3 separate regions of the Homo sapiens genome follow, and regions 1 and 2 are each linked to region 3. Evidence: fine-mapped expression QTL. A gene starts in region 3. Each other region holds a variant in brackets. All regions are shown on one strand. Distances are from middle to middle.

Region 1 (8,180 bases), 75 kb before region 3:
GGCCTGAGAGATTCAGAGCTAAATCTAGCTGACCAACTGTTTTTATAAATAACATTGCATTGAAATACACCCACATTCATTTATTTATTGACTGATTTGCAAAAAACAAGGGCAGCAGTGAGTAGATGCAAGAGATCATAGGCCTGCAAAGCATAAAACATCAACTTTCTGACCCTTTATAGATAAAACTTGTTGACCCCTGACCTACAGTATGCACCTAAGGTGTGTCCTATGTGTCCTAAGATGGCTCCGACACTTGCTATGTGACCCCAGACAAGTTGCTTTCCTGAATCTCCATTTCCTCATCTGTAAAATGTGCTTGTGGGAATTTGGTGAGGAAGTGTGTGTATGTGTAAGTGCCTGACCCAAGGCAGGTGTTTGATAAGGGTTTGCAGCTATCATTGCCAATAGTATGATGAAAATTATGACTGATTCCTATGATATCACTGAAGACAGGGCAGAGACCTTTATGGCCACTTTATGGGCAATGAAACCCTGGTGCAGAGAGAGGATATGGTGAGAGGCAGAGCCCAGGTCTTCCCAGTCCAAGTCCTGCACTCTGCTGCCTCCTTTCCCCCGCCTTCCAATCCATAGCTGCCCTAGTCCTCATTTATGTTTGCCAGCGTGCGGAGCAGCCCTTCTGTGTTTGTGAGTTTTCGGCATCTGTAAGTACCCACAGCCGCACAGAGCTCGCCAGCACAGACATTTGTCAAAGATGACATGCCAGTCATCCATGCCACCGGAGACAGTGACAGATGCGCTCTCCAGCCCCACCATCCAGGCAGTGGAGGATAGATGGGGCCTTGGCACCGGCGCCCGCTCTTGGCCTGGCATGTGCAGGGAGCTGCAGACCAGGCAAGAGACAAATTGCAGCCTGGTCAGTGGGCAGGAGGCTCAGTGTGCATGCAGGCAGATGTGGCTGCAGCCTGCCCCTGAACCAGACACCTGCCTGCCCTCCCCAGTGTCCTAGACCTGCCCAAATCTGGTGTTTGCTTAAGATTTGTATGTGGTCACTGATGAGGAGGTGAGTGCTCACGGGCTTTGGGTTGTTTCCAATAATAATAGTGACAATGGCTGATGCTAACATATGCTGCTCTGCTGTTCTAAGTCCTTAGCATACATCGAGCTCTTTAATCCTTAGCCATCCGGTGGTGGAGGTACAGGAAACTGAGCCTAGAGAGGTTGGAGGCCTCTTCCAAGTTCACACATTAAGTGGCAGAGGCAGGAATCAAATCCAGACACTCTGGCTCCAGAGTTCAATGCCCCTCAGGACTACTGTCTAATATTTGAGAGCCTGGAGTGGAGGAAAAATCGTGACTAGGCAAAGGATTCAGGTAGGCAGGGCTCACCACTAACCTGAGTGGACAGGAACAGGTTGCCCTGCCTCAATTTTTCCACCAGAAAAAATGAGCAGTGGCTGCTATTGCAAGGCCCTGCAAGGTCCCAGACCAGCTCCAGGGCAGGCCTCTCTGTTCTTCTGGGACCCTTGGGCACTAGGTCCTCTGCCGACACACATTCACTCCCTCCGCCTAATAATCCCAACCCAGATCCCCTGGAGTATCATCTCGTAGTTCATTAAACCATCACCTCTGTGTCCCTGAGGCAAGCTTGCAGTCTGTTGAGATTTTGTAGGGATGTTTATGGCTAGTGGCAGCAAAGGGAACAGACCACATAAAACAAAAAGAGACAGTATGAGCTCTTAAAAAGTTTCCAAAGTCTGGCATAAAAGCTCCCACAGGTGTTTCATTCATACAAATGACCAGCTTCCCTCCGCTCTGGATGAAGGGTTTGGAAAGACCAAAGTCTGGTTCAGTCCAGCCAGTCTCCTATTGTGGGACCTTCCTTGCGAAAGTACCCTTCTTTCTCTGAGCCTTGGTTTCCTTGTCTGTAAAATGGGTATAATGATAGTACCTATCTCATAAAATTATTGTGAGGATTAAAACACAAAAAACACTTAGAACAGGGCCCGACACAAAGCGAATGCTCAACAAATGCCAACTGTTCTCATTCTCTGGTTTTTAGTTTCCTCAGTGGGAAAATGAGGAGGTGAGTTTTGTGCCAGGTATGGGCTTCTGGCTCGAACATTCTGTGACTTCATGATGTTCCTAGGGTGCTTCCTTGTCTCCTCCCACTTGCCTGAGTCTTTCTTCTTTGTTTCTGTGAGCCCCAGCCAATTAGTTTACTCACAAGTGTAGGGTAGAGAGAACTACACAAACAGGAAGTGTTACCACTCATACTCACAGTGGTGAATCATTCCAACCTTCCATCAAGTGGATCCACCTCCATTGGTCGACACAGCTGGGGAATCTGAGCTACTGTGGCCAGAACTCTGTTGACCACATCCTGCAATGACAGACCTCAGAATCCTTCCTGAACCTTCCATGGGAAGGAGTCTGTGACAGCCCACCTGTGTAGACTGGGCCTCATCAGCCTGAATTTGCTGAAATAAGTAATTCCAGTTTCCCTGAATTCATGCAGAGGGCACCCACGCTGGGAAGGAGTTTCTCTGGCTTTTCAAGCTCCATAAACACTTGAAAAGTCATTTTATTTTTCAATCTGTGGGCAGGATGCCACCAAACGAGGAAGCCTCATTAAACAGACCTTGAAGGCTATTTCTTTGTTGTTTTTTTTGTGGGAGTGGGATGAGGTTTGGTGTTGGCTTTTTTTTCCCCCACTGATGCTTTTTGGATAAACACATAAATCAGCATCATCTATATTCATTAGATATCGTGCCTTGTTCAGTACAAAATTACCCCTGTTTTGCATGACTTTCCCCCCTTGTGATTAATATAAATGACTTAAGTTAATTATGTTTCTCTTCATGGAAAAATGTATTTGTCAAAGTGCTGAAACATCAATAAAAAATAAACACTGTCATTTGAAGAAGGGCTCATTTGCAAATGAGTAGCTGGGGTGTGGGGAAAGGAATGGACTCACCCGTCTGGAGGTGTCATTCTGATTGAGTAGGCACACTTCATATTTACTAACAATGACAAAAGCATTTTTCTTAGTTAAGCACTCACAGGTCCTGATGAGGTAGACTGATGTCATCATTATTAACAATAATGACACCTCAGGCGTAGAGAAAACAATTTTCCTTACTAGAGAAAACTAACGCTGGGTATTTTACCATCCAGACCTCCAAAACTAGGCCCAGCATGGGGACTTTGCAGGAATAGACCAAGAGGCAAATACAGATGATTGGAGTGGGAGGGAAGAGAAGTGAAGAAAAGCAAACCATGGAGCTGGTGTGGCATCTCAGAGCAACATGGAAGCTTAGGGATGAGACAGCACAAACACCTCCCTGGGCCAATGACAAGACTAAGAACCAGAGAGGGGACTTGCCCCTTGGGTAAACAGCATATTAGTGGCAGAGCCCAGAGAGAACCCAGGACTCTTGACTCCTAGACCCCCACCCTTTCCCTGCACTCTGCTGCCTCCCTTGCCACCAGGGATCAAAGGCTCCCCCTCACTTGAGTAAGTGGTCAATGGCACCAGCAAGGTGCAGGGGCTCAGACTGCTGGACAGTCAGGGCCCCAGGGAAATCTACAGGTTACTGACTTTTTTCATGGTATCTGGAATAGCCTTTCCCCACACTGACTGTCTTAGTTTGGGTTTCCTGAAGGCAGACCCTGAGACAAGATCGTAGGTGCTGGTGGTTTATGTAAGAGGTGAGCCTAAGACACCAAGTGAGGTGGAGAAGTGAGACAGGGAAGGGAGAAAAGCCAATACAGGGCACATGTATGAGGGGGTTACTGCTTTGGACACTTGGACTCACTCCCCCCAGGAGTGACTGCAGAGAATATGCCTCTGAGTTGTCCCGGTGCTGGACAGGGAAGCAGAAATATTTATTTACTGACCTCTGGGGACTTTAATTTCCAACCCCTCTGGGTCACCCTGTACCTAAGCTGAGCAAACTCCCATAGTACCAGAAAAACCCAGAGATCCAAAACCCTGAGCAGGTGAGTGGGAAGCGCTAGTGGGCACAGTCACTGTCTATGGCAGATGCACGTGAACCTG[G/A]AGGTGGTATGGGGGGATGTGGGTGGGGCAGGCATGTTATCTACTACATCACCCTTATCTAAGTGCTCCCAGCCTTCCAAGAAATCCCCCCTCCAAGTAAACATGATCATCTTGTCTTCTGATGGTCAGAAACCATTCATCTGGCCACCTTATTTTACTTATCTTCTTAAATATTATTTCTGTCACCCTAAATATACTGTAAAGCATTCAAGGGCAAAATTAAGGCCATTATCATTCTGTCATTCAACAAATACTTACTGAGCACTTACTCTGTGCTGGACTATCTTTAAGGTGCTAGGAATATAGCATCAAAGATAAAGAAAATCCTTGTCTTCAAGGAACTTGCATCTTAAAAGTAGAGCTAGACAATAAACACATAAATAAATGCTATAATTTCAAGTGGTGATAAGTGGCTCAAAGAAAAAGAAAGCAGGGTAAAGGGGATAGCATAATGGAAGTGCAGTACTCCTGGGGACATTTGAGCAAAAGCCTGAATGAAATACCGGAGTAAGCCATGTAAGAATCTGGTGGAATGGAATTCAATCAAAGAGAATGTCAATGCAAAGACCCTAGGGAATAACAGGAAGGCTGGTGTGACACTCAGCGGAGTGAAAAAGAAGGTGGTAGGAACTGAAGAAGGGGACAACCAGATCGTCTAGGACCTTACCTTTAAACAGTGCCTGGCACAAAAGAAAGGTACTCCAAGCTGACTGGATGGATAGATGGGTGGATATAACAGATGGAAGGATGGAAATAATGACAGACTAGTGGATGAAGAAAGAAGAAAACAAAGCAGGTTCTATAGGTAGAGTGTGGTGCCAATGGTGCATTCAAAGCCAGACTTTGCAGAAATAGCAAATATTGAACCCAAAGTACCCAATGAGTAGTTATTAGACCAAGGAAGCAGTTGAAGGAGAAATGTTCCTCTCTGGGCTTCAGCCAATGAGAATCCTAGAAACCTGAGTGTCCTTATCTTTCTTTACATTCCCTGCAGAGGCCCAGCTTCTCCCCTGTGGTGAGTATCCAATAACATTAAATGGTATTACAGTGGATTAATTAAACTTTGGTGGCTGGAAGCTAGTGAATCATTCCCTCCACCACATATTACCATGTTTACTCATCAGGGCTCCATTTTTAATAGCGGTCTTTTAATTAAAGCATGTCACCACGGTCCATTAGGGAAGAATTTGGAGGATGAGATGTGCATGTGGGTGCAAGCATCATTTAATTCAGCAGTTCTTTACTGAGTGCCTACTATGTGCCTGGCAAGTCTTGAGGTACTATGAGAAAATAAGGTGCAAGTGAAGGGCTTCAAGGAACTTACGCGATCAAACAAAGTGAATTCACACTCACGATCAACTGAGGAACATTGGCATATTAATCATTGCTTGCCAACTAACCAGAATTCTTTATTAGTAACTTCTCCCACCTAGTTTAATTTGGAAGAACCAGGCCAATCATAAGAAAAATTCTGGGGCTTTTCGTTTTCAGCAAAATATCCAGGGTATACTGTGGCCTAGACCCTGATGCAGTCATATATCTTTGGGAAAGCCTCCTAAAACTTCTGAGCCTCAATCAGTCTCTTCAAGAATAAAAGCAGAGGTTGTTCTTATCCAGAAATTCTCTAGATTCCAGCTGTAACATTTTCTCATCTGCGACCCTCCAAATCTCCAGGCCCAGACCATGAGGATGGGTTTTCCAGAATGGTGGAAATTTCATCTAAAGTCACTCTAAGATTTTTACCCACCAGAGAAAGATCCTTTTCATTACATTCATGACATTTTGTTTTCTGAATTTTCAAAGAGGACCAAGAAGACCTGTTTGGAAGTAGGAGTAGTTACAATGCATGCACTATGTGTGCACTTAGATGAGGAGGAACAAACCACATACTGCCAGAAAAGCAGGCTCTATTCATGGGGTGACTGGGTAAAAGGCATTGGAACTGGACCCTAAAGACTAGGTAATAGTTTGAGAGTAGGAGAAATGGGGGGAAAGAGCCAATTTTCAGCCTGATTCTAGCCATGTTCCAAGTATGGGTCCCCACTTTGCAACTGCATGACAAGCTCCCCCAGGAGGAGGGACCAGGTCTCTTTTTCTTTTGTCTGAGATTCTTCCTTCCAGCTCTTCACTCCTTAGGCGAGCTCAGCCAGTCTCATAGGTTAGGGCCCACCTGTGTGATGATGACTCCCACATTTCCATCTCCAGCTCAGCACCTCTCTGCGGAGCTCTCTATTCAGTCAGCTACCTGCTTGGCACAGCACTTAGAGGCTTCAAGACATCACAAACAACGTGGACAAAATGAGGCTCCTATTTCTGTGTCCAGTCTGTTGATCCTCATTCTTCAGGTCTCAATGTAGGAGTCACTTCCCCAGAATGTAAATATATATCTTACCCCAGAATGTGTGTGTGTGTGTGTGTGTGTGTGTGTGTGTATATATATATATATATACACACACATATATGAATATATTTGTTTATATATATTTATATATACATATATATGAATATTTATTTATTTATATATGAATATTTATTTATTTATTTATTTATGAATATATATTTATTTATTTATATATATATTATATATATGAAGGAGGGGTCAGGACCTCTCCGATCCCTCTTCTATAAACACCCTAGGTTTTCCTTCACAAATGTTGTCACATTGTCAGGAAATCTTTGTGTTGTGATATCTTTTCTGTGAGGTATTTGATGAATGGTTGCCTGTCTTACTGGATTTTTAAGTCCCATTGGGCATAGATCAGCCCCCATTTACTCACCACTGTCTCCTGAGTACCTGGGACTGTGCCTAGAACATAATAGGCCCCCAGTAAATATTTGTTAAGGGAAGGCATGGGTTCCCCAACCCCAGCCAGTGTGCAAGATCCATTTCCGCATACCACTGGCACACAACATTCAGGCACTGGGAGCCGCACAGTGACGGAAGCTTGAACATTTTCTTCGTGTCAAGTTCTCAGTAAAGCTATTTTCTCACATTGTCTCATGTAATTCTTAAACCACCCTGGAAGGAATAGGTTTTATTGCTGTTTCCATTATATAGGTGGGGAAACATGGCTCAGAGGAAAGTGGCATGTCCAAGATCACACATCCTGCAGGGGACAGACAGACCAAACCCATGTTTTCACCAGCCTCTCATCTCACAAACAACACTAGGTTTGTTAATACCTGGGAACTCTGTGTAAGCGAGGTCCCTGGCTTGGTGTCAGAAGACCTGGGTTTGAGTCTTGACAATGTCCTTTGTAAGTAGCTTAAGGTAGCTCCTCAGTTCCCTGTGAGACACTGCACACAACATCCTTTAAACTGCCTTAAGAAAAACAGCCCTACAAATGAAGACTCCATTGCCACTCCCTTTGAAGCAGCTGCTCTCAGAGTCCTCTGCACTGCCTCATCTGAATTGAACTATCTCCCCACCTTCTCGCAGAATCAAAAACTAGAGGCTGCAGGCTGAAGAGGGCACCATTATTTTGTTTAACTCACAGAGTATTTAAAACTTTTTTTTAAGTTGTTGGGTAAATTCTAACAGGTTTTCTTCAGGGTCCAGATTTTTACCTTCTCTTGAAAAATTAGAAGCTCCTGCAACATCAGTCCCACAGCTCTGCACATCATTGACTGGCATCAATTGGTTGAGCCAAGAGGTAGCCATGCTCTCTCCCCAGTGTGCCACTATCCCTACCTGAGGCTGGGAATCAGGTGTCACTTACCTTGACATCTGTTCCCTTATTTTTCCAACAATGGGAATACATTTTTCTGCATTCATGTCGCTAACAGAACTAGGAAAAGCAAGCCTGGACCACAAGGATAGTGCAGTGAGAGATAATGTGAGTATAATTCTTGATGCAAGTGAAGAATAATCATGAGTTCAATATGGTTAAGTGCATGTGTTTCAAAACAACACAACCCAAACAAGATTCAGCAAAAATACTATCCCCCAGCTCTATTTTGTTATGTTGCCTCTATGACCCCTGTAAGATTTTGAATTTCAGATGCTTGCTTCAGTTAAATAAAGAGTTTTCTAGATGAAGGCATGCAGTAGGTCTCTAACACTGAGCCACTGCCTTGTCCCTCTCAATTAACCTTTGTCTTTAAGTCCCTGTCTAATGCCTACTAGTAGCTAGGTCCCTGAGATTGTAAAGACCCCAAGG
Region 2 (8,180 bases), 32 kb after region 3:
GAATTTAATTTTGTAATTAAAACAAAAACTCTCCCCTAGGAGGAATCTGATGACATAAGGATAACACCAAGTTATGTGCACAAACGACAAAAAATGCCAAACTAACTGGAATGATCATCCTTCCTGAAATTTCTCTTAAAAAGCAGAGAAGTAGAACCAATGCTGCCACCTAGTGGCCAGCCAAACAAATCAGGTAGCATACTGGAGAAAAAGGTCATAGTCCCGACAATCTGGTTTCCCTGCCTATTATCAAGCCACCTAACTCCTTACTTTTCCACAAAAAAACACAACCACATATCTTAAGCAAGCCCTCCTCCACAGTCATAATCCAAATACTTGAATACAGCAACCAAAGTCTGTCTTGTTAAACACACTACTTCTCATGAAACTTTCCTCTGCCTATTTTAAGGTAGGTTTGCCCGGTCCTATGGCCCAGTAGAGATGACACAGGAGAACACGGAAACATCCAAAATGTTCACTGGTTCAGAGTGTGTACACAGTAATTTTGATGTCTGTTGCCTCAAATACCTCCTCGATCATCGCAGATACATTTTCCCATTGCAGACGATCAAGACCACATCCAATCCTGAAAAAGACAAAATATCTCCATTGATGGTAACGAAAGTATCTAGGAAACTGCTCCTCTCTTTTAAGCTATATCCACTCAAAGCATAAAAACAAATAATCTAGTCTGACACCCTTATGGGCAACCATGGTAGGAGTTTGGAAGTCAATTCTTGTTGTGAGTCACCGAAGACCATTCCTAGACAGCTCTAACATCCAAAAACTATCACTTCTGTTTGCCTAATAAGATACTACTTTCCAACTATTTCATGCTACATTTAGAAATGTGTAACTGTCATGACATTAGAGACTCATTATCCCTCTATGACTACTGACTAAAATTGGCTGTGGATGGATGGTGAAAGGTTGGTATTTTAAAAATGCACTTATGGTAACAGAATGTTAACGAAAGTAAGGAGAAGAGGAATGAGGTACAGGATCTGCAAAAAAGAAAGTCAAGAGGGAATGCTGGGAAATGGTAAGATAGTTGCAATCCAGGAGTAAGGTCTTTGCAACACCCTGGTAAGAATAAACTCAGTCCATAAAACTCTACTACTTGGCACCTTCCAAGATGTTACTCTAGTGATCCTCAACACGCCTAGGGAAAAAAGAGACCTAAAATTGGTAATTTCATGTCATAATGTGATAATTAAGTCCATAAGGAATTGTGATTAAAAAAAAAGTTTCTGATATGTATGTACACCATAAATATATCAAAGACCAGTGTAAAATAAGGGACATTTGAGGCCATATGCAAAGTAATGTGGGGCGCAAGATAAAACTGCATGTATGCTCAGCATTGACTCAAAACTACCAGGGTGACAGGAAGAAAAGAGGTGAGGCCCATTTCCTGAAAAGAAAGCAAAGGGACTACTGAACCCTCAATGTCATTCCCTAAATTCCCAATAGCTAAAGTCTAAGAAGTTACATCAGGGACAGATCCTCTGGCTATTACCCATACTGACCAAAACAAGTGTGCAGTATAAAAGGGAATGATAATTTACAACTTTCTTGACGCAAAGTAATAGGTTTGGGAGATGGGAAGTGGTCCAAGAGGAAAACCACCATTGCTCAGTCTTGATTCTTTAGCTTACATTGCTTTAGGAATAAAGGCCAAGCTTCAAGCAGAGGGTGCTGAGAATTCAACAAATGTAGCTGAATGACAATGGTCGCTCTCTGCTAAGCAGGCTGAGGCAGATGTATATTTCAAGGTAATTGTCCTGATTCATTCAACTCAAGCTAGAAAATGGCTGTGCCTTAGTCTAAAGCCAGACAACTGGTTCACTGGTGGTTTTACAAAATTTTGACTTTTGTCCACCTTTAAATCTATATTTTGGGTTAAGCTTTTAAGTTGTTTGTCTTTGGGTAAGATAGTAAACCCCACCAATCAATTAAATCTCCATTTAGGACCATGGATTTCCTTGCCTGGGCATGGAGAGGTCAGTGACTCCATTCTTCAGACAATGAGACTTCATTGCCTCTAAACTCTTCTGTAAGTTTTCATAAGTTGGCTTGTGCGAAGCCCTTTTCTTTGTAATCTGAACACAAAGGATTCAAACTTTCATCATCCCAAAATGATAGCCAAAGAAAAGTCATCACATTCCCCCAACATCCCAATAATTAAAAGAGTAAGCACATTTTTATAGAATTAGTCTAGAGCAAGGATGACAAATGTCATATTGCCCTTTCCACACTGTTATGGGAGACCTTCAAGAAAATCCACTAAATAGAGGCTGAGAAACCCAGACTCTGCCACGTAGCAATCTTTCCTTTTCCTAGGAAACCCATGAGATTAGCAGATGATGCCTATTGTCAATATTTTTAAGCAAGGTAGGTGAAGTCTCTGTGCCACTTCCAAGAGATAAGCTGCATATCTCTAACAGGGAAGAAAGCATACCACCTGAAAATTCCCTGCTAAAAGCCTCTACTTATTTAGAAACTGTGCTTGCTTGCTTTTTGTCTCTCTACATAAAACAACAGAAAAAACTGGTAGGGTCCCAAAGTAAAACCACTGGAAGCCACATAAGCTTTAAGGACAGAATTCAAAGGGGCTAGGACATCTCCCCACTCAGTTTGTCATCCAGATCAGGCTTGTAGTGGGTTAGCTGTAAGCTACCCACCACCACCACTAAGGAAGCCACACCCTTTCAGGGACCAAATGCCATCCTGGACTGTTGAAGAACCCCACATTCAGGCAGTAGTTAGGAGAGGAGCTAAGTATTATTTGGGACTGCACTTATTATTTTTTGTTTTTATTCACCCCCTTGCTATCAGTGTGCTATTTGACATGGAATAAGAGAAAAGCTCCTTTGGGAAATCTGTCTCTTGAGACATTATTGTTTTTATCTCACTCTGCCTAGGAAATATAGTATGGCAGGCATTCCTAACTTTTGCAAGTCTTAGAACAGGCCTATGGTACATGATACACGACTTTCCCACAGAGCTGGGATGCAGCCTCACATTTCTTTCTAACCCAGTGCTCCAAGTAGCCGCCATCACTGGACTGGAGTTGTCATAAGATAGGAAGCTTTTTGACATTCTTAGTTGTCTAGAATAGAACATCATGATCAACACAAATGCAGTGCAGCCCATCTGTTCACAAATCCTTAAAATGTATTAAGAACTGGCCCTGAAAAAAAAAGGAATTGGCCCCATCTTACCAAGTAATATATATATC[G/A]CCCATCTCTCTTCAGAACAGCCACTTCTCCAGATTTCTTTTCTAAGAAAAAGTTATTTAATAGTAGAAATGAAAAAGAAAACCAAACACTGATCTCTAAAGATTTTAAAATGTTTACAGATCTGAGTTTACCTCAGAACTAGAATTTTCAACACTGAAGAAGGGAATAGGGAAGACCTATTGTCTCCCACAAACACTTTGCTTTTTATCAGCATTCCCAAATACTATATTCCTTAACTTAACAGCTTTCTTACAGTCATGTTTCCTCACAACCCATCTTTTGTACCACTACTACTTTTAAATATATCCTCATTTGTCCACAAACTTTCTCTATTGCCTTGAAATTGTTTTATAGTGTGTAGTTTTTTACTTGCCAAATGTGTATTTACTCAATAATTATCTTTTTACATACAAAGAGCTGTATAAGGCATTATGAGGAATACAGATATATAAAAAAGGAATTAATTATTACAGAGTTTTCAATCCAGAGAAGATATCATCATTCCAAATAACTATAATACAAAGCAGTAAGAATTGCTTTTGTCTAAGGCTAAGAATCACTGTGGACACTGATGCTGTTAAGCCTGGAATGTGGTCGGAGAAACTGTTGCAGAAGCTTTACATAGGATTCTAGTGCACATTTCTGGTTTAAAGTGGCCCGTAGAAAGTGATGGGAGGGGTCTGTAAGGAAGAAGAGGTTTCTAAATTCCTCTTTGAAGAGAAAGCAGAATATTGGTAAGTAAAGGATCTTGAATGCCAACCTATAGACTAAGCATCTCAGAGTTATTTCAAGTTTCAGAGAAGTACAGTAATATCGTCAAGAAAGTTTCATGATACAAGAGGAAGAGATTAAAAACCTTCACAGGAGTTGGGTTTTGATATGGTAAACGTCTAAACTAGAGGCCATTCTTGGGGAGGAAAATCTTAAAAACATTTGGTTCTTAGGAATCCCCTCTTTACACGCATATTTTATTAAAGTGTAACAGATTAAAAGGTGCTCTAGCCAGGGCAAACCAGGTAAGTGGTTTCCAAAACTCACGTTGATTTAAAAGTTCTTGCACCCCTCCAAATTTCTTCTTAAAGAGGACAGCTATCCCAGCGCCCATGCGACAATCCTCACTGATACAGTGGGCTAAAGAGTCTGTTTTCGGGCATGCAAAAAGGTCTCCTTTCACATAAGTGATCTAAAAAATGTGCAAAGGAAAAGACAATGTTTTATTAGATACAGTAAAATACTAAGCTATTTTTCTGTATTTTGTGTCCCCCACGACTACCTCTCCCGGCACCCCTTCCTCCAATCTGATTTAAAGCCAAACCAATTACAGCATGTGTAAAAGGAAAGTAATGGATGATCCCTGCCTAGAATTTTGAGCCTTTTTAAAGTAAATCAGCTAGAGAGAAAAAAAGATAATGCAATCATTAATTTAATTAAAAAGTGTTTATGCTTTTGACCTCCATTATTACGAATTTCAGTTCACCAATAAGTCAATAGTTGTTACGCACTCTGCTTCCTTCTGGATCTTCATTAAGGCTGCTGGCCATGATACTGAGTCGCTATTTCCAGAATTTAAGTGTTTCTTCAGCTATGAGAAGGGAAAAGGAAGTAAAAATGCTTAGGCAGCCTTAGTATATAATATTCTGATTGCCCTGTACAACCACTTAATAGGCTTTTTTCCCCAACGTTTATCGATGAATGTGAGTTTGTTCGGCCCCTGGGACGTAATACAAAACCCTTCTGGGGCAAAGAGGAAGAACGCTTAGGTTCGGAGGCTGTCTCGACCCGCTCTCATTTCGTGCTTTCCTGGAGCGCCCCGCTCCGTCAGCGGAAGCAAAGCCCATCCCTAAGACACGCCTCCTCCTTTCTCCAGGGCCACTCCGGAGCAAGGCCGATTTAGGACGGTCTCCTTTTCTCTGCACGACGCAAAAGTATTTCCCCAGTGGGTCTGGCTTAGAAGAAAACAGAAGGGACTTGGCCACAGTCCCGTTAAGCCGCAACCACAGAGTGTACAGGGTACTGGCGTGCTGAGCCCCAGGCGTGGGGAAAGGAAGGCGGCCTCTCAAGGAACGTTCACCCCCCACTTTTTTGGGGGGTGCGTGGGAGAAGGAAAGAGTCTATTGAAGCCTCCCATTCTCTGTCTCCTACCCTAGGGCGGGTCAGCGAGGACGCAGTCTGTCCTGGGGTCCTATGGGAGGGTGCGGGGAGGCTCGCTCAAAGCCCCAACGTACCCAAGTCACCCTTCACCTGGAAAGGAGTCGGTTGTTTGGAGGTCCCCGCCCCGCGGGGAAGGGCTCCGGATCCGACCCTGGTAGGTGGGGAGCAGCGGACCAGCCCAAACGCGGAGCCAATCCCGCCAAAGCCCTTAATTGCACGCATCTAAGATGGCCGCCCCCGCCCGGTAGCGGGGCGGAAACGAGCCCCTCTAGCTTGCTAGCCGAGCCCACACTCTTTGGCGAAGGCCGCCGAACTTCCGGCAGTAAATTCCGTGGTTTCCCGCCGCCGCCCGCGCATGCGTAACGAAACTGCCCCACGAGTCGGGAAAAGTGGCGCTTGCGCATTAGCCGCAGGGGTGTGTCCTAGTGGCCACTTGGAAAGGGGTGGGCAGCTGGCAAAGGGGCTAGTTAGCGCCTGCGTAGTACTAAGCTCAAGGCAGCGTTTTGAGTTGAAGGGTCTGGCGCGTCTGGAAAGCGCCTGCGTATTCCTTTCACTGGGGGTGGTGTCAAAGCGGGAAGGTGGGCGTGGCTTCAGGGAACGCCTGCGCGTTGCTCCTCCGAAGGGGTGGGGCGATCCCTGAACTGGAGTTAGTGGGCGTGGCCTCAGAGGCGCCTGCGCGGAGGCGGTTGGAGGGAGGCCCGATTCCCCTTTGTTCGGGTTCGCCATTTTGCTAGGCAGCGGCAGTGGCGGCGGCAGCGGCGGCTGGAGCCTCTGATTGGGTTTCGGAGTCCGGTACTGGAGCCAATCAGCGCGGGCAGCGAACCGGGGGAGCGAGGCACGGTGAGTGTGAGGAGCCAATATCCAGCGGCCCAGAGCCGGCCCCAGCGCCCCGATTGGCGGGTCTCGCTGACCACTCAGGAGAGGCCCAGGCGCCCGTCGAGCCCGGGGAGTCGAGCTGAGCCTAGCCGAGCCGGGCGGCCAGCGGCCCCGGCCCGGGGCCTGCGAGCGCCTCGGGGCACTCCCGGCCGAGGCCTGCAGGGGCCGCCCCGCGCGGGGATGGCGCCTCGGGGAGCAGGCACCTCGGGGCTCCGACCCTCGCAGGGTGCCAGGGCCAGTTGGGAATGCGTCCCTGTTCCCCGACTCAGGCCCAGGTTCTCAGGCCCCAGGCCTGGGGCCACGAATGGCCCTACACTAGGGGACACATGCGCGCCCTGGGCCTCGGCGATTTCCTCCTGGTCGTTCTGGCCGCAAACTTAAACCTGCCCTTGCACTCTCCACTCTCCGGCCCTTGGGACAGGAAGCCTCCCCGGGGCCCGCGCCCCCCGCTCCCCGCTCCCAGCGAGCCGGGTCTGTCTTATCTGCAGCCCCTCTAGGTCGGGAGGGAGGCCTGGGGAGGGTGCGCGCCGCGGCCGCGGGGTCCCGTGTGCGGCTGGCAACGGGGCTGGCCCGCCCACGCCTCGGAGCCCTATGGGCCCGCCCCCGCTGTCTCCCTGGTGGGGAGAGGGGGCCGTTAGTTCGCCCACTCCCCCTGCTCCGCCGCGCCCCTCCTCCCAGCCCGCTCCGCCCGGGTCTCCGGCCCGGCGCCGTTACCACCCCTTTTGGCTCGTCATTTCCTCTCTTCCCCGCCCCGTTCGCAGTGGCAGGACCGCACACCTCCGTCTTGGAGCCCAACCAAGCGGTCTCCGTTTCTTGTCCGGGCTGTAAGACCAGTCCATTCGGTGCCTGGAACCTCACTCTTAGAAGATTGATACCCTTGCGCATTCTTTCCGGAGGCTGCACAACTTGCTGTTCATATTACTAATCTTATCCACTGCTCATTTTGTGAAATCTCCCTCCCTTGGGAATATAGTACAGTTTTGGGGGTTTTTTTTCCCTTTGTTTTTGCCTTCGCCTTTCTATGTTACTTTGTGTCAGGCTTGACCCAGTCCACTCATCTCTTGGTTTATGTTTTTCTGATACACTTTCAAGTCCTGTGTTAACGTTTTCTCAGCAGATGTTTAGAAACTAACAGTGTTGTGGGGTTTTCCTTAGGGTGAGAGGTTGCTGTTGGCAACCAATTATCCAGCAGTTAGTATATGCCAGGTATAATCCGTGTGTTAGGGAGGGAGTACGTAGAGGTCAATAAGAACTGTGCCTACCTGATGGAAATTGACAGGTGAACAGGTAGTTAATACCTAACGGTTAGTGCTATAAAGGGGCCAAGTTCAGTTGCTGTGAAGTATCCATGCGTGAGCTAGCCTCCGTGAAAGGCTTATCACCACCGCACTTTTGACTGGCCTTGAAGAATGATGGTAATTCTTCCACAGGAAAGATGGAAGAGCTTGCTCGAAGAGAAGAAAAGCATGTGCAGAGGAATCAAATTACACTGTTGGAGGCAGGAAGATGGGATAGGGAAGTGGGCAGTAGTTGTGATAGTTTAGGGGGGAAAGCCCAGTTGGTAAAATACTTGTATATCTTGCTAAGGAATATTTTGGAAACAGTTATTATTTTGTATGGAGGTTCAAGTAGAAGGGATCTAGAGCTATATTTTTTCCTAAGATTGAAAAAACGAGTTTCTGACTTGTTTATGGGTTCTGCCCCGTGATAGTGGCTGAGTTCTTTGGGGATGAAGAGGAGACTTGTCCTAGGACTCTGAAAATTATTTTTACTCATGTGAATCATCTAGTGCATTCCCTGGCACATAAAGGTCTTAAGTATCTGGTGCCCATTTCTAAATTCACATTTAATGTTATACAACTAATAGGTTTCAGAAAACTCGTATTCCAGTGCTCTTTCATTACTAAAACT
Region 3 (8,180 bases):
AGTTTGTGCATCAACTGGCGGACCATGGTCTGGCCTTGAGTGGGTGTGTGTAGCTCCTGGTAGAAGGCAACCATCTCTGGCAGTGTGGCTGGCAGGTGCTGCCTTGAGACCTCATTTTCTAGTTGGGGGGTAGGCTGGGACACTGGTTCCTCTTGACCATTCAGTGTCCAGCAGGCCCCCAGCAGCCTTCTAGGGCAGTGCCATCGAAGGCATTGGGCCAGAAGGAGGACACTTGCCACTGGGACCCCCACCAGCAGTAGGAACTGGGAGGGTTGGAATGAACTCTCCTGGGGGCACATTCGCCTGGTTACTCAATGCCGCTGGCTCTCCTTCACCCCTGTGCCAGCCAAAGCCAAAGGCCTGGTGGGGAAGAAGGGGTCAGTGTCAGGGTAAGCCCTTTTAAGTTGTGGAGGTCAAGGCTTGGCTTACACATAGCTGCAAGTTGTCTTCATTCCAGCGCACACTGCACACTTTAGTCACACCAATTCTTTTAACCTGTCTCTCTTACTCGAGAACCTACCCTGGCTCCCCGTGACCTAATACATCAAGGTAAACTGTTCTGAAGCAGAGTGAGCTTGGGTTTACAGTTAGAGAACATGAGTTCAAATGTCACCTTGGTCACTGTGGCTGGGTAAACTTATCATATTGATGTAAGGCAGGAGAGCCCCAAAATTGGGGCTTAGTTTGGGAGGGTTTGTGGCTTCACCTAGGCAAGAATTCAAGGGTGAGCCAGTGGTGTCAGACAGCAACTTTCACTAAAGTGGCAGAGTATAGCAGCAGCAGAGGTATGCTCCTTACAGAGCAGAGCTAACCCTAGGCAGTGTGCCCAGGGTAGCAGCTCTGGGGCATTTCTGCCATCATATTTATGTCCACTTTTAATTACATGCAGTAAGGGGTGGGTTATTCAGAAATTTCTAGAAAAAGGAGTGGTAGCTTCGGGTCACTGCCATGGAAAGGGGCAGTAACTTCCAGGCATCGCCATGGCAGTGGTAAACTGTCATGGCACTGGTGGGCATGTCTTATGGAGAGGTGCTTTTGGTGCCTTTTCCCTGTTTCAGCCAGTTTTCTATCTGGCCTGGAATCAAATCCCACCTCCTGCCTCAATACTGCTTAATGTACCTCAGTTTCCTCATCTGTCCAAATATCTACCTTGATCTACAAGTGCTGATACAAAAAAATCTATAAGTGGAAAAAGCAAGTCGCAGAGAGATAAAATATTCTGAGCTCATTAATGTGAAAAACAAAACTGCATATAAATAGATACATATTTATGGGTGCATATATGGAAATGTAAAGGTATAGAGAAAGGTCTGGAGCAGTGGTGTACAATAAAAATGTAATGTGAACTACACATGTAATTTTAAATTTCCTGATGGCCACATTAAAAAGAACAGGAGAAATTAATACATTTTATTTAACCCAATATATTCAAAATGTTATTTCAACAGGTAATCGATATAAAATTATGAGATATTTTTACTTTCTTCCTTCATACCCAGTCTTTGAAATCCATGTGTAATTTATATGAACAGAACAGCTCACTTGGGACTGGCTGTATTTCAAGTGCCCAGTAGCCACGTGTACTAATGAATCCGGTCTTAGACTGTGCAGGTCTGGAAGGACACACCCCCAAACTATTCCCATGAGTCACAACAAATTGAGAAGGTGGAAGGTGTGAATAAAAACTTTGTATTTTTTTAAATCCTTTTCTCTGTACTTTGAATTTTTCACATCAAGCATGTAGTTTGTATTAACTTTGTAATTCTTTTCTGAAGCTATTAAAAGTGGGGAAAAAGTGCCTCTTTGTGTAATGGTGAGGATGGCATAAGGTCATGTGAAAAGTATTTGTAGATGAGAAAGCACTGTCCAAATGTATGTGTTTCTTTATGCCCCTCCTTCTGCCAGAAAGGCCTGAAGGTAGCTCACAGGGATAGGCAACATACAACAAGAACAACAAAAGCTAAAAGTGGAAGCAAAAAAAAAAAAAAATGAAGAAGACAAAACACAAAGATGCAGCCCTACAGTGAAGCTGGAATGAGGCAGGGCAAAAGCATACACTCACCTCCTGCTCACCTGGCTACCCAGCCAGGCCACAGGCTGAGACTTCCCAGTAGCTCTTCCTGAGGCCCTCCAGAACCCACCTCCGCCTCCTCCTACTTCCCCTCTTCCAGCCCCTACAATTTCCAACACGCCTGCCCTGTAGCCTGCCCAGGCTCCCCACACCTGCTTAATTCTAGCCTCTGGCTTTTGCTCATGCTGTTTTCTGTTTCTCCACTCACTTGCTCTCCCCACTTGTTTCCTCTCCCTACGTGGATCCTCCCATTCAATAGTGCCTCCCGCTGGTGCACCGGCCTTTGACAGCCTCCAGCTCGCGAAATCTCTCTCCACAGCCATCCCACCATACTGAGTCACTCTTGATTATGTGCTGTCATGTGTGATTTTCCCACTCAAATGAACATTTTCTAAGCACCGGCTGTGTATCGGACACTGTGGGAAGTTCAATCCTGCCAAAGATGACGTCTTATTCCGCTCTCAAGGAGCTTCTGCAGGAATGGAATTCATTGGCTTGGTAGCTGAGTTCTGTGAGGCACAACGTCCTCCTTCAGAGCCCTGGGAGGCCCCTCTGGTTGACTCACTAGAGGCTGCACTGGAAGAGCTTCCAGTATCCAGTCCTCCCCACGCCCTTCACTTGCACTACCCACCTGGAACTGAGGCTTGGCCCACCTTCTTCCTTCCAACCTCAGGACCCATGAAAACTGAAGCCCCTTCCTAGTGCCTCTTAGACCAGGGCAGAACCTCCACTGTATCCTCAGGATTGAAGACTGGGGCAGTACCTGTTTCTCCCATGTCCTCACTGAAAGTGTGAATAAGAAGCGGGGGTTGGCATTGTTCTCTTTGCCTAAAGAGCCAACCCAGCAGACAATGCACCAGCCTTTTTCAACCAGGCATCCTGGAGGGCACACAGGTGAATCAGTGAATTGGCAGTGTCCCAAAGCTGATGGGAAGGGGGTTGGAGCAGCAAGCTACCGTTGATGTCCCATCATTTCTTTTGGTTCTTTCACATTAGTAATAATTATAATTCCAACTGTAATAACAATAGCTAACATTCGCAGAGCTTTACTCAATGCCACTGTGTTAAAGCACTCTCCATGGCTTGTCTCATCTCATCCTCACAGCAGCCTTAGGAGCGAGGTGTTATTTTTATCTCCATTTCACAGATAAGGAATCCGAGCTTTCTCCCCACAGTGAAGATGGATAGGGAATTACTAAACAACTGAAGACAGGCAGGAAGGAGGAGCAAAGACGAACAAGGACTTCCAGAGATACCCCCTTTCTCTCTCCACCCCTTCTTTTCCCCAAGTATCTTCCTTTCCTTCTCTAGAAGAAATAAAGTTGGAAGAGAAAGAAGCAAAAATGAAGTAAAGACAAATAGAAGGACCTAAATTTACATCCTCAGTTATGTGGTAATACCCACCCCACTACACCACACCCCCACCTACCAAGGTACCAGTGGCAGGGGATGGAATTGCTAAAGGGATGAAAGGAGGGGCCCCAGCTCGCTTACACAGCAGTAACCTTCCTGGGGCCACCAAAGACCAGAGTCCAGATCCCCAGTGAGGTGCACCTCACTGGGTGGTGCAGTAGAGTCCCCTGGCTCAACCTCCGACCCTGGAGAAGTTGGCATGCACCACTCCCAAAGCCCCACTGGGCCTCTCCCAGGGTGACTGCTCTTCCAGGCTGCCCTGGCCCTCACTGCATCCTCCCTCTGGCTCCAGAATGGGGAAAGGTCCGGAGTCTTGCTGAATGGCAACTATAGCACTGCAGCCATTCGAGTGTGACTTGGGGCATCCCAACCCCATGCCTGGACTCCTCATTACCCACTCCTCCAGTCTGTCTTGCTCCAGACCCCAGATCACCCTGGGTAGCGGGTCCCCGAAACGAGAGTCCTTTAGAATGCTGCCATCACCTGTCCCTAGGCAGTTGCATCCTCCAGCACAAAGATCCAAACTCCTGCTGCAAAGTTCTGCTCATACCCTTTAAGAAAACTCTCAACCTTTCCTCCACCTCACTGGTTCTCCCTGTGCCTCCCCAACACCTGATAGATGTCCAGTTACTGCAGAACATAACAAGTACTGGGATGGATGGTCCAAACCCAAGTCATGAATGGCATTTGTTAGTATAGTAGACATTTCCGCAGGACACAGAATCATCCCAGTGGTCCTCATACCCATTGGCCAAGTCCCATTTTCCTCCCCTCCTCCAGCAGAGGGTCCCTACACTCCAGCAGGCAGGCTAAGCTGGCCTGGCTCCTCCCCCGAAGCTCCAGGTAACCCCATCACAATGCCCATCCCCTCTCCAGCTGCCCCAAGGGGGTGCTCAACTTACCGTCTAGGAGCTCTTAGAGGCTGCTGGCTGGTCCAGTTCCTTCTCCGAGAAACAAGGGTCAGCCAGATTCAGTCGGCAGGCCAGCAGACAAGTGGAGGTGGGCGGGGAATCCAGGCAGGAGTGGCCTGGCATTTCCTGGCAGAGCCCTGCCTCCCAGCTGTCTAAAGAGGGGTGAGGGAGAGTGTCCCTGTCTATTGGCAAAGTCCAGCCCAGGTAAGGGATTAGCTGAGGATCCCAGAAGTCAGTGAACTTTCCAGTCTAGGTCTGGAAGGAAGGAGGGAGGCAGGGAGACAACCTGGGTGTAGGTGCTGCACCTTGAAACCCCTCCTTACAGTGCCCTCTGCTGGTGAGTGGCTGTCCCCAGCCAGAGGCTATTATTAAAATAGCAGATAGGAGGAGGAGGGAACCTTCATCTGAGTTTCTTAAACTATAATGTGCACAACAGTCACCTGGGAGATCTTGTTAAAATGCAGGCTCTGATTCTGTAGGTCTAGTATGGGGCCTGAGATTCTGCAGCTCAAAGAAGCTCCCAGCTGATGCCAATGCAACCGGTCCAAGGAGCTTAGAGAGCATCTAGTTCCACCCGCTCCCCACACAGAGAAGACAGTGGAGCCACTGAGACGGTTAATGACTCACCAGTTGCTGGTGGACCTGAGATGTACCCATATTTTTCCTTACACAAGGTGCTTTCTACTTCCCCCACCCAAAGTTGGCAGAGACACTGCCGGTTGGGAGACAACTGAACTTTGGGGCCATTTGCCATTCTGAGTTCTTAAAACTCTGCCTAGGAGCGGTGGCACCACAAGAATGAAAACTCCTTGTGGAACTTTTCCCATGTTTTCGGCTGTCTCCTCAGCTCCTGGTACAGCCTGATAGATAGAAGGTGTTCAATAAACATGTCTTGAATGAATGAGTGAAGCAGTTGAGAGGGAAAAGGATGCATTTTGGCTCCAACTGGCCAACACTGAGCCCAGGTGAGCCACACGTTGGGTATGTAATATTGGGCAAGCTACTTAACTCCTCTGAACCTCAATTCCCTTGTCTGTCAAATGCAGTTAAGAATATCTACCTTGTGTGAGATAATAATTGTCATTATTGAGCTAATAAATGTCAAATGCCCACCACAGAATGGGTGGTCAATAGATGGTAACCGTTGTCACCAGGGTCTGGCCTCCTGCAGTTGAGGAGGCATGGTGAACGCCCCCCCAGGCCCCTAGTTATCATCTCCCATAGAAAATAAGTAACTTCCTCTGCTTTTGTCTCAGTTAATAATTCTCTAGCCTCTTGTCTCTGACTGCAATGCCCTCCCCTCTGCTTCCTTCCCTGGTGGAGGTGAGAGGGTGGAATAAACCTCCCAGGGGAGCCCAGTACCCCAAAGTGCAGAGATGGTAGAGAGCGGGCAACCTGGGAAGCAGACCTCATGCCTAAAGACAAGCCAGGAAGGGGTGCTCAGAACTTTGATAGGGAATGAAAGGAGTGGGGTAGGGGTGTTTGTCTTTGTTGAACAAAGCTCTGTCTGAGTCACACAGGAGGCTGGACTTTGCCAACAGACAGGGACACTCTCCCCTACCCCTCTTTAGGGCGGCTGGGAGGCAGGACTTTCTGCCAGGAAGCGCCAGGTCACTCCTCCTTGACTCCCCACCCACCTCCACTTGTCAGCTGCCTTCTCCTCTGAGTCATAAAGTCCTAGGGGTTTGTGAAAGATCTGTCAAGCTAGGGTTCTAAGCCAGGAAGGTCATGCCAACCAGGAGGCTATAACCAGGGGCTGTGTTCATGGATTATGAACTCACTTCCCAAGCTAGTTCTTGCCACTCTTGGGGACAATCCCAATTATAAGGAGGCTCTGAAGAAATGTGAAGGCTCCTACCACTCACTCCCATGGCCACAGAGCTGGTTCATGGGATGCAAAGACCACAGGCATCAACAGCATTATAACTGGGGGCTGAGCTGTCACAGGAGGGCCAGTGTCAAACCCTCACCACAAGCCCTCAAACATTCCATCAAGGGGTAGCCTCCAGAGGCCAGGCACCAAGGAGGGTCTGGCAGACCAGAGGGGCTCCTCCTGAGAGGAACTCTTTGGGGCCATGAAACAGCAACTTGGACTTCCCAGCCAGTGTCACCACCCTTCTCATCTGAGAAAGGCAGATCAGCAGGGAGCACCACTCCACCCTCCTCCCAGCCCCACCCTCCTCCCAGCCCCACCCTCCTCTGCCTTCCACACATCATATGTCATCAGGCCCCCCGCCTGGGAGGTGTGCTGCCAGAGGTAAGGGGAGCACAGGCCTAGGAACCAGGAGGCACTGGGAGAGGCAGGTGTCAGGAGAAAAGAGGATGGGGGCAGGGAGGGGCAGGGAGGGGGCCTCCACCACTGGACAGAAATGTAGAAAAACAGGAAGGCAGAAGATGAGCAAACGGACAGTCAGGAGCACAGAAAGACAAGTAGAAATATGCACAGGTGGGCATGCTGCTCAGCTCTGTCCCAGAACCTCCAGGACCAGTGTCCCTGACCCTTGACAGAAAAGGATGGATTAGGGCCAGGCACAGTGGCTCATGCCTGTAATCCCAGCACTTTGGGAGGCCAAGGCGGGTGGATCACCTGAGGTCAGGAGTTCGAGACCAGCCTGACCAACATGGCAAAACCCCATCTCTACTAAAAATACAAAATTAGCCGGGCATGGTGGCGCACGCCTGTAATCCCAGCTACTAGGGAGGCTGAGACAGGAGAATCACTTGAACTAGGGAGGCAGAGGTTGCAGTGAGCCGAGATTGCACCACTGCACTCCAGCCTGGACAACAAGAGTGAAACTCTGTATGAAAAGAAAAAAAAAAAAAGGATGGATTAGATAGTCAGTCCAGAATACTGAAAATAATCAGATTGTTTTCTCTCCTTCAAATCTGGTTAATCATGGGGGGAGGCTGAAATATCATGAACAAATGAGAAGAATGATATTTGTGGGGCCTTGGTGGGGCCTTGGCTGGAGGAGGGTCTGTACATTGTCCCACATGCAAATGACATGCAAAGCAACATGCCACCTTGGCAGCTTTTTAATCAAAGACCAGGCAGTTGTTTCCTTGAAAAGTCAGGCCACAAGAAACCTGGATGCTTGTGCTTACATCCTGACACTCTGGGAATGGAAAGATGGAGCAGGAAGCTCATACCCCATGGCTCCAGGGGTAGAAGAGAGCTAAAAGTTCAGAAAAAGGAATCCACGGTGTCAACAGGCCAAGTTTGAATTTGGGCAGGAGATCAGCCTGGGTGGGCCCCATGAGTGTGCCAGTCTGATATGGTGAGATAAGCCTGGGACAGATGTGCTGCCGCATTCGTGACTAGAAAAGAGTCCCCAGGAATTTCTGGCTCCTGCCTTCAGATTGTGAACTTTCCAGGTTGGTAGATCAGCTTAGGTAGAACAGTTCTCGGTGAGGGCCAGCTACATACCTGGCTAAGCGCTGCCCACTGCAGAAAAGCTCATCACCCGGGACCTGATCTCCAGGACTCAGAAGCACTTGGAGGAAGGCCTATTCACTTAGAAGCAGTTACCAGTGCTGGGCAGTGTCCTCCAAGTGCCAGAGGAGTGCTGTGGAGAAAAGAAGTCCATGGAAGCCAGGAGATGGGCAAGGTGTGGCCTGGGGTTGGAGAGAGCTCAGAGGTACAGGACTGGAGCTGGGCCAGGGAGAGAGGAAGGACCTCCGTGAGTAGACCTTCTCTGAGGGGCTCAGGCCAGGAAATGAGTCAGGTTAGGAGGCAGAGACAGACGAGGAGCCGCAGGGGAAGGCTCATCACTAGCATGTTCTCT

Evidence for each region.
Region 1: its variant is fine-mapped to the expression of UNC5CL in whole blood (INTERVAL, PIP 0.98).
Region 2: its variant is fine-mapped to the expression of UNC5CL in whole blood (TOPMed, PIP above 0.99).

The regions. Positions count from the first base shown.
Region 1 is chr6:40,960,191-40,968,370 of GRCh38, forward strand. All of the region lies in intron 1 of LOC101929555 (a long non-coding RNA gene), which reads right to left. Among named protein-coding and RNA genes, the nearest start is that of UNC5CL, 75 kb to the right of the region's middle. The variant G/A (reference allele first, on the strand shown) is at 4,021.
Region 2 is chr6:41,066,852-41,075,031 of GRCh38, forward strand. It overlaps OARD1 (O-acyl-ADP-ribose deacylase 1), which reads right to left and starts at 5,505. Exons shown (of 6, transcript NM_001329686.2): 1 at 5,385-5,505; 2 at 4,745-4,824; 3 at 4,281-4,425; 4 at 3,225-3,283; 5 at 1,990-2,102; 6 at 1-586. The coding sequence starts at 4,783. The coding sequence ends at 484. It overlaps NFYA (nuclear transcription factor Y subunit alpha), which reads left to right and starts at 6,123. Exons shown (of 10, transcript NM_002505.5): 1 at 6,123-6,233. RefSeq lists enhancers at 5,524-5,733, 5,764-5,813 and silencers at 6,194-6,823, 6,854-7,013. The variant G/A (reference allele first, on the strand shown) is at 3,242.
Region 3 is chr6:41,034,776-41,042,955 of GRCh38, forward strand. It overlaps UNC5CL (unc-5 family C-terminal like), which reads right to left and starts at 4,446. Exons shown (of 9, transcript NM_173561.3): 1 at 4,387-4,446; 2 at 1-360. The coding sequence starts at 299. It overlaps TSPO2 (translocator protein 2), which reads left to right and starts at 7,692. Exons shown (of 4, transcript NM_001010873.3): 1 at 7,692-8,003.